Linked DNA regions of Homo sapiens. The protein of the gene in region 2 purifies or fractionates together with the protein of the main gene of each other region. This does not show direct contact. Each region holds a gene or a part of one and is shown on either strand. Other genes may lie near its edges.

Region 1 (7,030 bases), on a different chromosome or scaffold from region 2:
CCTCCTGACTAGCTGGGATTACAGGCGCCCGCCACCATGCCTGGCTAATTTTCTGTATCTTTAGTGGACACGGGGTCTCACCAGGTTGGCCAGGCTGGTCTTGAAGTCCTGACCTCAGGTAATCCACCCACCTCGGCCTCCCAAAGTGCTGGGATTACAGGTGTGAGCCACTGAGCCAGCCCAAGTGGCTTTTTTTTTTTTTTTTTTTTTGAGATGGAGTCTAGCTTTGTCACCCAGGCTGGAGTGCAGTGGTGCGGTCTCAGCTCACTGTAACCTCCACCTCCCAGGTTCAAGTGATTCGCCTGCCTCAGCCTCCCGAGTAGCTGGGACTACAGGTGCGTGTCACCATGCCCGGCTAATTTTTGTATTTTTAGTAGAGACAGGGTTTCACCATGTTGGCCAGGATGGTCTCGATCTCTTGACCTCGTGATCCGCCCACCTCGGCCTCCCAAAGTACTGGGATTACAGGTGTGAGCCACCGCACCCGGCCCAGAGTGGGTATTTTAAAAAGATGGCCATCCTCATAATCTGATTAAACATTTGCTAATAAGGTATTATGGATAGTTTTATCAGAGTGATTAATGTACTTACTAGAAATTAAGAGTAAATGCTAAAAACATTTTACATTTTCAGAAATGTAAATACTTTCATATTCAAAACTGCTGGCAGTGTGGTGGCTCACACCTGTAATCCCAGCCTCCCTTTAGGAGGCTGAGGCGGGTAGATCACTTGAGGTCAGGAGTTCAAGACCAACCTGGCCAACATGGTGAAACTCCAACTCTACTAAAAAATACAAAAATTAGCTGGGCATGGTGGAGCATGCCTGTAATTCCAGCTACTTGGGAGGCTGAGGTGCACCAGAATCGCTTGAACCTGGGAGGCAGAGGTTGCAGTGGGCCGTGATTGTGCCACTGTACTCCAGCCTGGGCAACAGAGCAAGACTCTCAAAAAACAAAAACAACAAAAATCCCCCCTACAAAACTGTCAAAAAAGGCCAGGCACAGTGGCACAGTGGCTTGCGCCTATAATCCTAACACTTTGGGAAGCCAAGGCAGGAGGACTGCTGGAGTTCAGGAGTTCTGGACCAGCCTAGGCAACAAAGCAAGACCTTGTTTCTACCAAAAATTTAAAACATTAGGCAGGCGTGGTGGCATGTGCCTACAGTTCCAGCTACTCAGGAGCCCAGGAGAACCAGGCTGCAGTGAGCTATGATTGCACCACTGCACTCCAGCCTGGATGACAGTGAGACCTTGTCTCAAAAAGAAAAACAAATTGCTGAAAAACATTCTTTTTTGCTTTCATTATTTTAGGACTCTGAATTTAAGTACTGCTAATCTACCACATTACCCGGGAAGCTGCATTCAAGAACAACATTTACAGATTCTCGAATGAGACTACAACCTCCCACAAGAGATATTATTTACTGTCATTTATGCTAGTGGGTATTTTACCCTTTATTGCTATTATATATGGTGTGACATCAAATTTCCCCCAGGAAAGAAGATTTTGATTTCCCTCATTTAAAGGTTCCTCTTAGCTGTTCTGTCAGGGACGTACATGCTTGTTAAGGTTTCTCATCTTCTACAGGCTCGCTGTGGTATTCTGCCACATACAGGCTCTTATCAATGTTGCTCGGAATAGGTTTAATTTCTGTTCCCAGCTGCTCCTCAATACTTTTCAGGTTGAAGCGATCATCATATGTGATCAAGTTGATGGCTAAGCCAAGATGACCAAAGCGACCTAAAAAACATGCGTTTAAAAATTTTAATGAATAAAATATGAAAATCAATGTGAATTGTGCAAGTCAAGCAGTGGCAAAACCACACAGGATTGATAATGATGTTCAGTGCCATTCTTAGTATGCAAAACAACTTCTTAATGGTCTTCAAACACAGGTTTCCCTACAACTTCAGGTTTCGCAGCCCAAAATAGTACTTCATTTCACCTTTCTCAAATGACAAAATGGCAGTCAAAACTGCCATAAAATACACATTAAACAACAGTCACAGAACATACCACCTAATGAGTGAAGTTCTCATGTGTTAATTTCATCTCAAATTAAGCAGTTATTTTAACTTTTCTTAATAAATGCTACAGAAGAATTAGAAATTAGTCTTAAATACCAAACAACTGAATTACTGTTAATTCACTGTTCTCATAGCTACTGTACTCTATTTCACAAAAGAACAAAATTTAGTCATTACACGCCTCAAAAAAGAACTTCTACCAAGAATATCACCTCTTTTTTCCTCACCTGATCTTCCAATACGATGGAGATAGGTCTCTGCCAGCTTTGGGAAATCAAAGTTTATTACCACATTCACAGCTTGTATATCAATACCTCGGGTAAACAGATCTTAAAAAAAAAAAGATAATTTTCATTTTTTCAATTTAGAAATGTCTCTCAGTACAATACTAACACATATTTCTAGCATAACCTAAGTTTATTAATTTAATTCAGTTATTCAAATGCATTTGCACATTACTGGCATTACCTTTCATAATCACATTATCATAAATAACTTTCTGCTCCCAAGTTACTTTTTTCCAGTAATTGTAAGCAAGTTTTAAAAAATGTGTCTAAAAGAGGCTGGGTGCACTCAAGCCTGTAATCCCAGCACTTTGGGAGACCAAAGCAGGAAGATCACCTGAGGTCAGGAGTTCGAGACCAGCCTGGCCAACATGGTGAAATCCCTGTCTCTACCAAAAATACAAAAATTAGCCGGGCTAAGCGGTAGCAGGCGCCCACAATCCCAGCTACTTGGGAGGCTGAGGCAGGAGAATCACTTGAACCCAGGAGGTGGAGGTTTCAGAGAGCCAAGATCGCACCACTGCACTCCAGCCTGGGTGACAAAGATTCCATCCCCCTCCCCCCCCCCCCCAAAAAAAAGACAGAGATGAGGTATGAGTGCCAGAGTAAGTCTTCTAAAGTTTCAGATATGGAACCCAGTATCAGGAGCTGACAAGAGTTCATTTTCAACTTCAGAAATCCTAGAAGTAGTGGTAGGGTGTGTCGGACTATGTCACAGGTTGCACTATGTAATATGAACAGAGAAAGCAAAAAACAACTTGGGAGAAAAACACTGGGTAAAGGAAATACAAAAATACTTACCAGTGCAAACAAGATTGCGGCATAAGCCATTTCGGAAATCATGAAATACACGATTTCGATGTTCCTAGGAGAAAGCAATGTATTCCATTTGATTAACACTCATATACAGCCCCAAATTTCCCATAATTATTTCTCCCAGACGATCAGTTCTACCCAAAATCTGTTTATAAGTGATCCATGATATTAAGCTGCTTTCAAAACCAAATGAGTTAAGTTCTTGATATCTTCGTCTACAGAAACTGTTTACTTACGAAATTTCATAATGTAGTTAACAAAAAAGTCATTTTTGTTACAGTTTTAAATTATTTTTTGCTAAATCAAATTCTGAAATTTAGATATTGTATCTTTTTCTAAAGGCAAACAGTAAAGAAAAAAAGAAAAATCAGCCAGCTGAGGGGCCATATTTAAAAATCCAGAGCAGTGCTGTCCAGTAAAACTTCTATAATAAAGGAAATATTTGTGTCTGTACTTCCAATTCCAATACACTATCCAGTAGCAACAGGTGCCTAACTGAGCACTTGAAATGTGGCTGTGATTGAGAAACTGACTTTTTATTTTAATTTTAACTGATTTAAATTGCCACATGTGGCTATTTACTGTATTAAACAGAGAATTAAACATGGAAAGGAAGGGAAGAATAAAATTTTACATTTGTATCATGCCTGACAGCTTCCAAAGTACTCATTTAAACATTTATCTTAATTTTCCTAACAACCTTGTAAGTTATGAATATGTACTATTATCCCTATTTTATTGCTAGAAAATTGAACCTGAGGGAGGTCAAAATGAAAGGTCCTTTGGCTACTAAGGAACAGTTTATTCTTAAACTCAGGACATTTAAAAGAACATTAAAACAAAATAAAGAAAGAGATTTCTTATTAAATTTGTGCAAGTTCTAGTTTTATACTCACCTGCCTCATTTTAGCATGAATATAGAAGCAAGAATAACCCAGTTGAGAAATCTTCTTGGCTAGCAATTCAACTCGCTGAGAGGAGTTACAGAAAATGATCGACTGGTTTATCTGAAGCTGAGCACAGAAAAAAATAAGTATGAGAAAAATAAAAAAAACCTTCATTTGGTTTGCCAAATCTTGAAAACACGAACCAGCAAAAAAGAAACATTAACATGGTCTAAAACTTAGAATCTCATGATATGAGAGAGATGGTAAATTGTAAAAATTGTAAATAATAGATGGAAGATAATAATATCTAAGATTTACCGTATTAGAGTATATTTCTTAAGGGCCACATAACTGTCAACAAGAGTAATACAATTGATTATCTGATTCAAAGTAGTTATGTTTTATGTGTTTCCATTTAAAAATATTTTATTTTATTTTTTTTTTGTGAAATGGAGTTTCACTCTTGTTGTCCAGGCTGGAGTGCAATGGTGCAATCTCAGCTCACTGCAACAGCTGCCTCCTGGGTTCAAACAATTCTCCAGCCTCAGCCTCTTGAGTAGCTGGGATTACAGGCACCCACCACAATGCCTGGCTAACTTTTGTATTTTTAGTAGAGACAGGGTTTCAGCCTGTTGGTCAGGCTGGTCTTGAACTCTTGACCTCAGGTGATCTGCCCACTTCGGCTTCCCAAAGTGCTGGGATTACAGGTATGAGCTACTGTGCCCAGCCAAGAATACCTTCTTTAATATACTCACAACCAATGCCACCAGCATTGGGCAGCACTTCAGCACCATGTGTAGGGGCCAATTAAAACTGTGAAATCAGCAACAAAAACTTGAAAAACATGGCAGACTGTGAAAAGGACCCTTGTTCACAGTATGAGAGCTAAACAAGAGGACAGAGATTGCTTTCTTCGACCTCAGCTGGGAATGTGCATGTCAGGTGACTTAAACTCTTTGCCACACTGTACACGTCCACAAATGACTGCTGAACTACCTTGAGTATTAATTCCGGAGTTACAAATAAATTCTAGTGACTAAGCAAATTCACAAATACAGAATATGTGAATAATGAGGATTAACCCTAGTTAAGGTCAAAGTATTTCAGAAACTATTCAAAAGTGTATCTGTGACTTGGTTAATCATTTAGTATCAACTTTAGGTCAACAACTAAACCTGCCTTTTAGGAAACACTATGAATTATTTTTTAATCTTTTTTTTTTTCTTCCCAAGACGGAGTCTTGCTCTGTCGCCCAGAGCTGGAGTGCAATGGTGCAATCTCAGCTCACTGCAGCCTCCGCCTCCTGGGTTCAAGCAATTCTCCTGCCTCGGCCTCCCAAGTAGCTGGGATTATGGGCACACGCCACCATGCCCAATTTTTTTGTATTTTGTAGTAGAGATGGGGTTTCACCATGTTGGCCAGGCTGGTCTCAAACTCCTGACCTCGTGATCTGCCTGCCTCAGCCTCCAAAGTGCTGGGAGGCATGAGCCACCGTGCCAAGCCAGAAACACTACGAACTTTTATACAGTGAAGACGGTGGGAAAATTGATGAAATCATCTGTTTTACTGGGACTCGAGAGATAATATTCAACAGCAGAAGCCTACTTCTTACCCTGGAGAAAAGTGTGTTGAGGCAGTGTACTTTTTGGCGCTCAGTTACATATGCGTAGTACTGGGTTACTCCCTTCAGAGTTAGTTCCTCCATCAGGTTAATCTCATAGGGTTTCTGCAAATGGGAATTCTGGGGGGGGAGCGGGAAAAAGATGAGTCGTCGTCTTAAATGAAAGCAGAGTTCATCTCAAATTCAAAATATACCCTATACGTTTCTGTCCGATAAACTCTTGCTGTAAGGGACGCAACTCTCTTCAAAACAAAATATATGATCTGTCATTACAGAATTTCCCCCCTGCCACCCTGAGACAAAATCTTGCTCTGTCACCCAGGCTGGAGTGTAGTGGCACGATCTCTGCTCCCTGCAACCTCCACCTCCCGGGTTCAAGTGATTCTCCTGCCTCGGCCTCCCGAGTAGCTGGGAATGCAGGCATGCACTGCCATAACAGACTAATTTTTGTATTTTTAGTAGAGACGGGGTTTCACCATGTTGCCCAGGCTGGTCTCGAACTCCTGACCTTGTGATCTGCCCGCCTCGGCCCCCCAAAGTGCTGGGATTACAGGCATGAGCCACCATGCCCGACCCGATAGAAATAAATTAAGATATAAGATCTCAAAAATGCAGCTAAGTTACTACAGGTTGAGTATTCCTTACCCAAAATGCTTAGGAACAGAAGTGTTTCAGGTTTTAAATTTTTTCTAATTTTGGAATATGTGCATTACACTTAGTGACTGAGCATCCTTAATTTGAAAATTCAAAATCCAAAGAACATTTCCTTTTAGCATCATGTTCGTGGCTCAAAAGGTTTCAAATTCTGCAGTATTTTGGATTTCAGTTTAGGATACTCAAGCTCTGTTTTGTATATAGAATAATACCGGAATCAATTCAGCTAGCACCAATGGCTATGTCATCATGACACCAAAAACTAAGTGAAAGATGAGGAATTTAATTAAGTTACTATTACAACCTTCTTAAAAAGTCAGTTAATTTACGTAAAACAAATCTTTAATTGATCAACTGAAGAAAGAGCCAAAGGCTTGAAATAATTAGCATAAAGTATATTCACAGATATGAAGATGTAATTACAAATAAAAGCATACTCAAAGGTCACAGGATGGCACTGATTCCAAGTACAGATTTATACTCACCATGAACTTCTGTACACTAAGAGGGAAAGTAGCGGAATATAGTAAAATCTGCCTGTTTTTAGGTAGCGTGAGAATAATATCCTCCATTATCTGCACAAAATCCTGTGACAGCAACTTATCTGCCTGCAGTAGAAAGAAAAGACAATTTTAAAAACAATAAAATAATGTCTAAGGTCTTGGTTAATACATGGTCAAAGAATAAGGCATCATCCAACAAAAGCATCCATGAAATGTTCCTGGTGGAAAACAATAAATT
Region 2 (7,164 bases):
GCCCGCTAGGTGCTGGAGTTTAACACACTCCTCTTTTATTTTCCAAGGAACTTCCCATCACACAGGGCTCCTCACGCCAGGAAACTCGGCTGTTGGGGTGGGAAGGGGAGAAAGGGAGGTGGAAGGGGGACAGGAGGCAGGAGGGGGAGATGGATGGGAAGAGGGAAGAGGGTCTGAGGATGCCTGAACTTCAACCCACTGGTGCTCATCCAGCCTCCCGGGAAAACAGCCCTGCAGAGCCCCATGCAGGAGGAAATGGATTTTAACTGGATTCACAGAGAGCAGGTCAGACCTCCATGAGAATTCCTGATGGTACAGGATCAACTCAGCCCTCCCTCCTCACCTTACTGTCCAGCCACCTGTGGGTCCCTGTGCCCCGAACACCCTCCCTGGGCCTCACTGTCCCATTCCCTGCCCGGAAGTCCTCCTAGCAAAGCTGGCCCTGAGCCTCCCCACACGGCACACCTGTGCCCTCCTCAGCTCCCTTCAGGCTGGTGCTGTTGCACCTGTGCGGTTGGAGGGTCTTCCTCGGGGGAGGGGGCCTGAGGCCTGCAGGGCCTCCCCAATCCCCTCTCCTGCGCCAGATCCTGAATGAGGGGACGGGGACGGTTGAGTCCTGTCTCACCAGCACGTGGCCACACTTCAGACCACTGACTTATCTGTGGACCACCCATCGTTAACGCCCTCTGAATTAACTCAGCTGTTTTGTGTGGCGCCTACTGAGCAATGACACCTGTGAGATCAATGGCTGTGCCAGTCATTCTTGCTCAGGGGAACATTAGAGTCACAGGATGGTTTTCTGTGGTGGGGCACCCTTACCTGCTGCAGGATGCTGGCCTGTGCCACCCCAGCTAGACTGGTGATGCAACGTGGAGCAGGGTCCTTACTCCATGTCTCCCCACCTGTCACTGGGGACCACGGCATGCTCCTACATACACAGAGCAAGCACGTAATGAGTGGCTTGTGGCTGCAGCAGAAACCTCTCCAGCTGTCCCTATGGCCCTCCCAGTGCCCTCAGCACACCCAGTTCCTACACGTTCCTCCAGAATAGCCCCTGGTTACTCTCAAAGCCCTTCACAGGCATGATCTTCCGGGGTCCTCAAGCACACCAGTGAGATGGACAGGCAAATGAAGAAACTGAGGCAGGCAGTCCAAGTGGCCCAGGGTTTCCCAGAAGCCCCAGCTCATTCCTCCAAATCCTTGGGCTCGCTGGTCTAAAGCCTGGTGATTACCAGGCAGGTGGGCTGTTCAGACCTGTGCACAGTAAAGAGCTGCTTATAGTGGAGGTGCTGGATACATGTGCCCCAGCCTGGAAAACAAGCCATGCCAGTGAACGTCCAGGTCGACTTAGGCCTGGCACAACTGTCGCCTTCTCAGACCTCACCCAAGTGCCCTCCACTTTGGGCAGGATACCAAGGAATGAATGGCAGGGCCTGCATTCCTGGACCTGGGCACTACGTATATTTTTAGCCTCTGCCTTCCTGGGCATTTGCAGGGTGGCTAATGTTCTCAGGGAGCCACCAGCTGCACACCCACGGGCTGGGCAGGCACTCGGAGGTCTCTGGGAACTGCACCCTCCCTGCCTTCAGTCCGGGGGCTCAGAGGCCAGCTCCTTTTCAAGGCAGAATCAGCTCCTGCTAGTGAAGCATGCACCCCACCCCCAACACAGCCAGAAGCCTGTGGCTCAGAAACTAGGAGGCATGAAGTACAGGATTTGTGACCTTGGATTTCCTTACTTGGAAAATGGGGTGGGGTGGGGGGACAGAAGGACTTTGACTCCACATGGGATCACCAGGCCAGCTCACTCAGGAGACCTGGTTGGCACCTCCTCCTGACAGGTGCACCCTGTATATCCAAGTGGGGAAGGATGTGCTGTGTTGAGAAGCTGAGAGTCTGGGTCGCGCTTCCCAGGGCCAGATGCCCCAGTCGCTGGAGACCTCTCCTCCCTGAGCTGGGCTGACTCCATGGCTTTGCTGTCTCTGTTCTCTTCCTGCATATGATGTTCCAGGAGCCAAGAAGCAATTCTAGAATGTACAGGTCAATCTTGGCAGATGAAACTGAATTTTCCCTCTTCTCTTCTGCTTCCTGTGTCCCCTTCCTTAAACTCATCACTGTTCTCTTACTGGCCATTGCCGGGCTCTGGTGGGAGCAGGTTGGCTTCACCTTTGTGAAGAGACAAGAGACAGTGTGATGCGGCCCCAAGCCTGTGGAGGATGCCACCAGGCCAGACTGCAACTTCTCTGCGTGACTCCCCCGTGCTGGGCCTCTGTTTCCCCTTCTGTCAAATGGGGAGTCACAGCGTCTACCCTGCAGGGCAGGTAAGATCTTCTTATTATAGTCAGAAACACATTCTAGGTCCTTACCAAGTCCACACTTACACAAACAGGTGAATTAAATATTTCACAAAATAATACTTACTTTCACCATGCGAGATACTATTATTTTCTTTTTTTCCTTTAGAAATAGGGTCTTGCTGCCACCCCTGCGTGCAGTAGTCCAATCACAGCTCATTGCAGCCTCCAACTCCTGGGCTCAAGTGATCCTCCCGCCTCTGCCTCCACCTCCCCAGGAGCTGGAACTACAAGTATGTGCCCCCACACTCGCCCAATTTTTTTTAAAGTTTTTTTTTTTTTTGTAGAGATGGGGTCTCCATATGTCGCCCAGGCTGATCTCAAACTCCTGGCCTCCAGTGATCTTCCCGCTTCGGCCTCCCAGAGTGCTGAGATTACAGGCATGAGCCACCCACCACGCCATCTGATATCTTCTAGCTTATTCTATTTCATTTTTATTATTATTTTTCTTGAGACGGGGTCTAGCTCTGTCGCCCAGGCTGGAATGCAGTGGTGAGATCTCTGCTGACTGCAATCTTCACGTCTCAGGCTCAAGCGATTCTCCTGCCTCAGACTCCCGAGTAGCTGGGGATTACACGTGTCTGTCACCACGCCCGGCTAGTTTTTTTGTATTTTTAGAGTAGAGACAGGGTTTCACCATTTTGCCCAGGCTGGTCTTGAACTCCTCACCTCAAGTGATCCGCCCGCCTCCGCCTCCCAAAGTGTTGGGATTACAGGCGTGAGCCACCGCGCCCAGCCTATTGCATTTTTATAGTCACCACCCACTACTTTTTTTTTCCAGGACCCAATATTGGTCCGTGATCTGATGATGTTCACGGTCAAGACGGAAGCAAAAAAAGCACACACCGCGCGCCCTCGGTCACTAATCACGCGGAGTATACGCGAGGAGGGCCCGCAGCTAAGCGACGGCGGGCGGCCGAGCTTCCTCCACGGCCGGGGAGGTGGGCAAGGCCTCCGGGCCGCAGCCCCGGGTACGAGCGGAGGCTCCGAGGCCCCCGGTAGCCAGTCAGAATTTATTTTAAGGGAAATGGAAAGCTGCGGCAGGCTTTGGGAGGAGGGGCAGGATTAAAAGAGAAAGTGTGCTCAGCATGTTATATTTAGAGGCTGCCACGCCGGAAGCGCCGCCTTCCCGGGAGCTGCCGCCGCGCCCGCCCCCCGCCGGCACCTGGGCACTGGGGCGGGAGTCCCGGGGCTGCCCGGGAACACCCGGCGCCCAGGGCCTCCGCCACTCCCCGGTCCCCCATGAGGGTGAGGGCTATAGGCGCATCTGGCCCAAGATAGGGGAGTCGTCCGGACCCCACTTCTGTAGGAGGGGAAACTGAGGCCAAGGGGGCAAAGCCCCCGTGTTCGCGGCGCCCAGGGTCCGGGGCGGCGCCGGCACGCGCGCGGGCGGGGCCTGGCGCTCCTCCCCGGTCCCGCCCACTGAGCGTGCAAACCGCAGCCGCCCGCCCACGCGCACGCGCGCTCCTCCCGGGCCGCTTCCCACCCCTCCCCCCGCCCGCTCAGTCTCGTGCTCCCAGCTCCGCGAGGGGCCCGCCGGGAGCCGGCCGAGGGTGGGGCGGATCGCCGGGGAGACCCGCCCCCGGCCAGCGGCGCCTTGCTGCGCAGGAACGACGCGAGGGCCCGCCCCCCAGCTGGCGGCCCGGCCATATTTAAAGGACGGCGGGCGCGGCGAGCCAATGGGCGGCGAGCGTGAAGGGGCGGTGCGTGGCGGTGCGTGGCGGCGCGAGGCCCCGGATGTGGCTGCGGCGGCCCCTCCTCCCCCGCGCTCCTCTCAGAGCCCCAGTCGCGCGCCCCTTCTTGGTTCGCTCGGTGCCCGCGCAGGCCCCTCGGGCGGTGGCGAGGAGGCGCCCAGGCGGAGGCGGCGGCGGGCGGAGGAGCGCAGGAGCGGGCGGCCAGGCCACCGCGCGGCGGCGGAGCGGGCCGCGGCCCGGCGCTCCTTCCCCACCGCGGCCCGACGCACCCCGGCCGCCGCCATGAGCGGCTCCTCAGGCACCCCGTATCTGGGCAGCAAGATCAGCCTCATCTCCAAGGCGCAGATCCGCTACGAGGGCATTCTCTACACCATCGACACCGACAACTCCACCGTGGCGCTCGCCAAAGGTAGCGGCCGCCGCCCGCCCGAGCCCGCTGACCCCCGTCCGCCAACAGCCCCGGCCTGCGGTGCCCTCCCCGCCCCGGGGCGCCCCGGAGCCTGGCGCCCAGACCCCGCCCAGAACCCACCCAGGGCACACCCGGCCCGAGATCCCCTGCCCGCGCCTTCACCCCGGACGCCCCCGAGGCGCCCCCTTCCCGCGCGCCACCCTCCCCCAGCGTAGCCGGCCGCACAATGGTCTCCCTGGGCTCCCAGGGCGGCGGGATTGTGCGCGGGCGCCCGGCGGTGTTTGGTGAGGGGCGGGCCCGGCCCCCGCGGTGCCGCCCCCTCGGCCGCCCAGCCCACCTCTGCAGGTGCCAGCTCCGAGGAGCAGGGCGGCTCCCGTCAGCGGGCCTCCTCCCCGCCAGCCTGGGGGGATCCCTGCGGGGGAGCCTCGAGGTCGGGTGGCGGGGCCAGTGTCCCGGCGTCTCCCGAAGGCTGGGGGTGGGGTCACAACACGCGAATCCTGCAAGCCTTTCTGGAACTTATTAGACAGCTGGGGCCTTGATCCTGAACAAATACCGCGTCCTAATGCGGCCTCCTGCCAAGGCAGAAGCATCCGTTGGCAGCCAGATGCCCCGGTTTAAACGGTTCTCCTGCTCTATCCTGACCTTCCCACTGTGGGGCTTACCTTTTGGTGACAGCCGCCTGTGGGTGCTCGTAACCGGCTGTGGCCGCTGGAGGACTTACAGGAGGGGGGCTCTTTAGAGTCAGAATCTCTGAGGTTGTTGAGGCAGCGGGTGGTCCAGAGTTTCTTTGTCTTCATCACCCAGAGAAGACGGGGAGTGCACTTCCCCTGCCTCTCAGAGAAAAGTGCCCGTGGAGCCACGTCTGCCTAAGCCCGTGTGTGTGCTGGATCTGGCGCTAGGCTCCCAGGGGTTCTTGAAGTGTCTAGACGCGTCTGAAACGCTGCTTAGGTCACAGGGAACTTCATGTGTAGAAGAACGCACTCATTCCAAACAGGGAGTGTCTCCTTTTGAAGCCCGTCTCCTGCGTGGCTTCAGGAGCTTGTTGAGTATGCCAGGGCTATGCACTCACTTGCAGCCATGGAACCTCACTACACTTATTACAGGAGAGCCCAGTTAGAGAAGCTGAGGCCCAGAGTAGGCCCAGGAGTTAGCAGGAGTTGTGTCTTACCAGTTAGAGGCTGCTGTCCCACCCACCTCTGCCCCTAGAGGCTTGCTAGAAAGAGACTTGGGCGCTCCTGGAAGCCTGCTGGTTAGGGGTTAGTAGACTCAATTCCTTATAGATGCGGAAGCCGGGGTCAGAGGTCCATAATCCTGGGACCCTGTCTCCCTTTGTTTTCTGTTACAGCTGTTCCAAGGTTTGTTATGGATAGAAGGGTAAGGGCAACACTCGTCTAGATTCCTTTGTGAGAAAACTGCCTCCTCAGGCGCAATGTGCGGTGAGGCTTTGGGCATAAAGCAGCCGGCTGGCTGTTGGATCTACAGAGTCAAACGTGAACAGGGAGGCCTTACGAAGCAAGCCTTGTTTTGCTGAGAGCTCTGTACGTTGGTGCCTTCGCACATCAGACTGTCAGTCTGTGAAATTGTTCCTTGTCATCTTTGTGATCTAGAGCTGTCTGTTGTCTGGAGCTTCACCAATTGGTGCATTATCAGCACTGTCCATTGAAAATCGGGGCATTAAGTAGTTGTTGAAATGTGGACCTGGGGTGCTGTGTTGTGGCTCTGAGCAAGTGTCGCCGTCTTTTGGAAGGCTTGGGAGCAGTGGTGTCAGGGTTGATTGAACTGGCTGAGGACAACAATAACGCTTCTCTTTCTCCACTCATAAGTGAGGTCCTTTGGCACTGAAGACCGTCCCACAGATAGGCCTGCGCCCCCCAGAGAGGAGATTTATGAGTACATCATTTTCCGAGGAAGTGACATCAAGGATATCACTGTGTGTGAACCTCCGAAAGCTCAGCACACACTCCCGCAGGATCCCGCCATTGTTCAGGTAAGTGTGCCACTGTCCCTCTGTGCATGCTGTAGGAGATGCTGGTTTCCATTTGGAGCTTGGTGGCATGTTTGGTCAGAACGCTCAATGTGAGGAATAACCTTTTTTTTTTTTTCTTTGAGGCAGCGTCTCGCTGTGTCACCAGGCTGGAGGTCAGTGGCGTGATCTCAGCTCATTGCAACTTTGGCTTCCCAGGTTCAAGCAATTCTCCTGCCTCAGCCTCCCGAGTAGCTGGGACTACAGGGACGCACCACCATGCCCAGCTAATTTTTGTAATTTTAGTAGAGACGGGGTTTCACCATGTTGGCCAGGATGGTCTCAATCTCTTGACCTTGTGATGCACCCGCCTTGGCCTCCCAAAGTGCTAGGATTACAGGCGTGAGCCACCACACCCAGCCTGAGGAATAACCTTTTAATGAAAAGTGGCTTAACTTTTGTCCAGGCTGTTGCTGCTCTCACAGAAGGTGTTGATTCTTGTAGCACACACAGTAGGTGGTGTGTGCTGTGTCACGTGGCTCTTAAGGAAGGCGACCTGGGGAGTTGGGTGTGCATGTGCGCGTGTGTAGTGTAGTGTGGTATGAGTGGATGCTCCTGGACCTGTGATGTTTCGGGCATAGCGTTTGCCCTTAGTTTCTGGTTGGAGAAGTCTGAGCCCTGAGCAGCTGCTGTGAGTGGCGTGACCTACCTGCAGGGACTGCAGGGCTTGCCCTCGGGTTACGCCCA

Evidence for each region. The genes of interacting proteins can lie anywhere in the genome.
Region 1: the proteins of LSM14B (region 2) and DDX6 purify together in Homo sapiens (affinity purification with mass spectrometry; 5 studies listed by BioGRID and IntAct, with this or other methods). This does not show direct contact.

What each region holds. Positions count from the first base shown.
Region 1 is NC_000011.10:118,753,148-118,760,177, forward strand, and holds part of DDX6 (probable ATP-dependent RNA helicase DDX6), read right to left. Parts: intron 6,898-7,030; coding exon 6,775-6,897; intron 5,756-6,774; coding exon 5,627-5,755; intron 4,141-5,626; coding exon 4,024-4,140; intron 3,177-4,023; coding exon 3,113-3,176; intron 2,357-3,112; coding exon 2,255-2,356; intron 1,741-2,254; coding exon 1,565-1,740; 3' UTR 1,558-1,564; intron 1-1,557.
Region 2 is NC_000020.11:62,118,340-62,125,503, forward strand, and holds the start of LSM14B (protein LSM14 homolog B), read left to right. Parts: upstream 1-4,135; 5' UTR 4,136-4,327; coding exon 4,328-4,454; intron 4,455-4,765; exon of another isoform or gene 4,766-4,884; intron 4,885-5,116; exon of another isoform or gene 5,117-5,345; intron 5,346-6,277; coding exon 6,278-6,441; intron 6,442-7,164. UniProt on the Homo sapiens protein: mRNA-binding protein essential for female fertility, oocyte meiotic maturation and the assembly of MARDO (mitochondria-associated ribonucleoprotein domain), a membraneless compartment that stores maternal mRNAs in oocytes.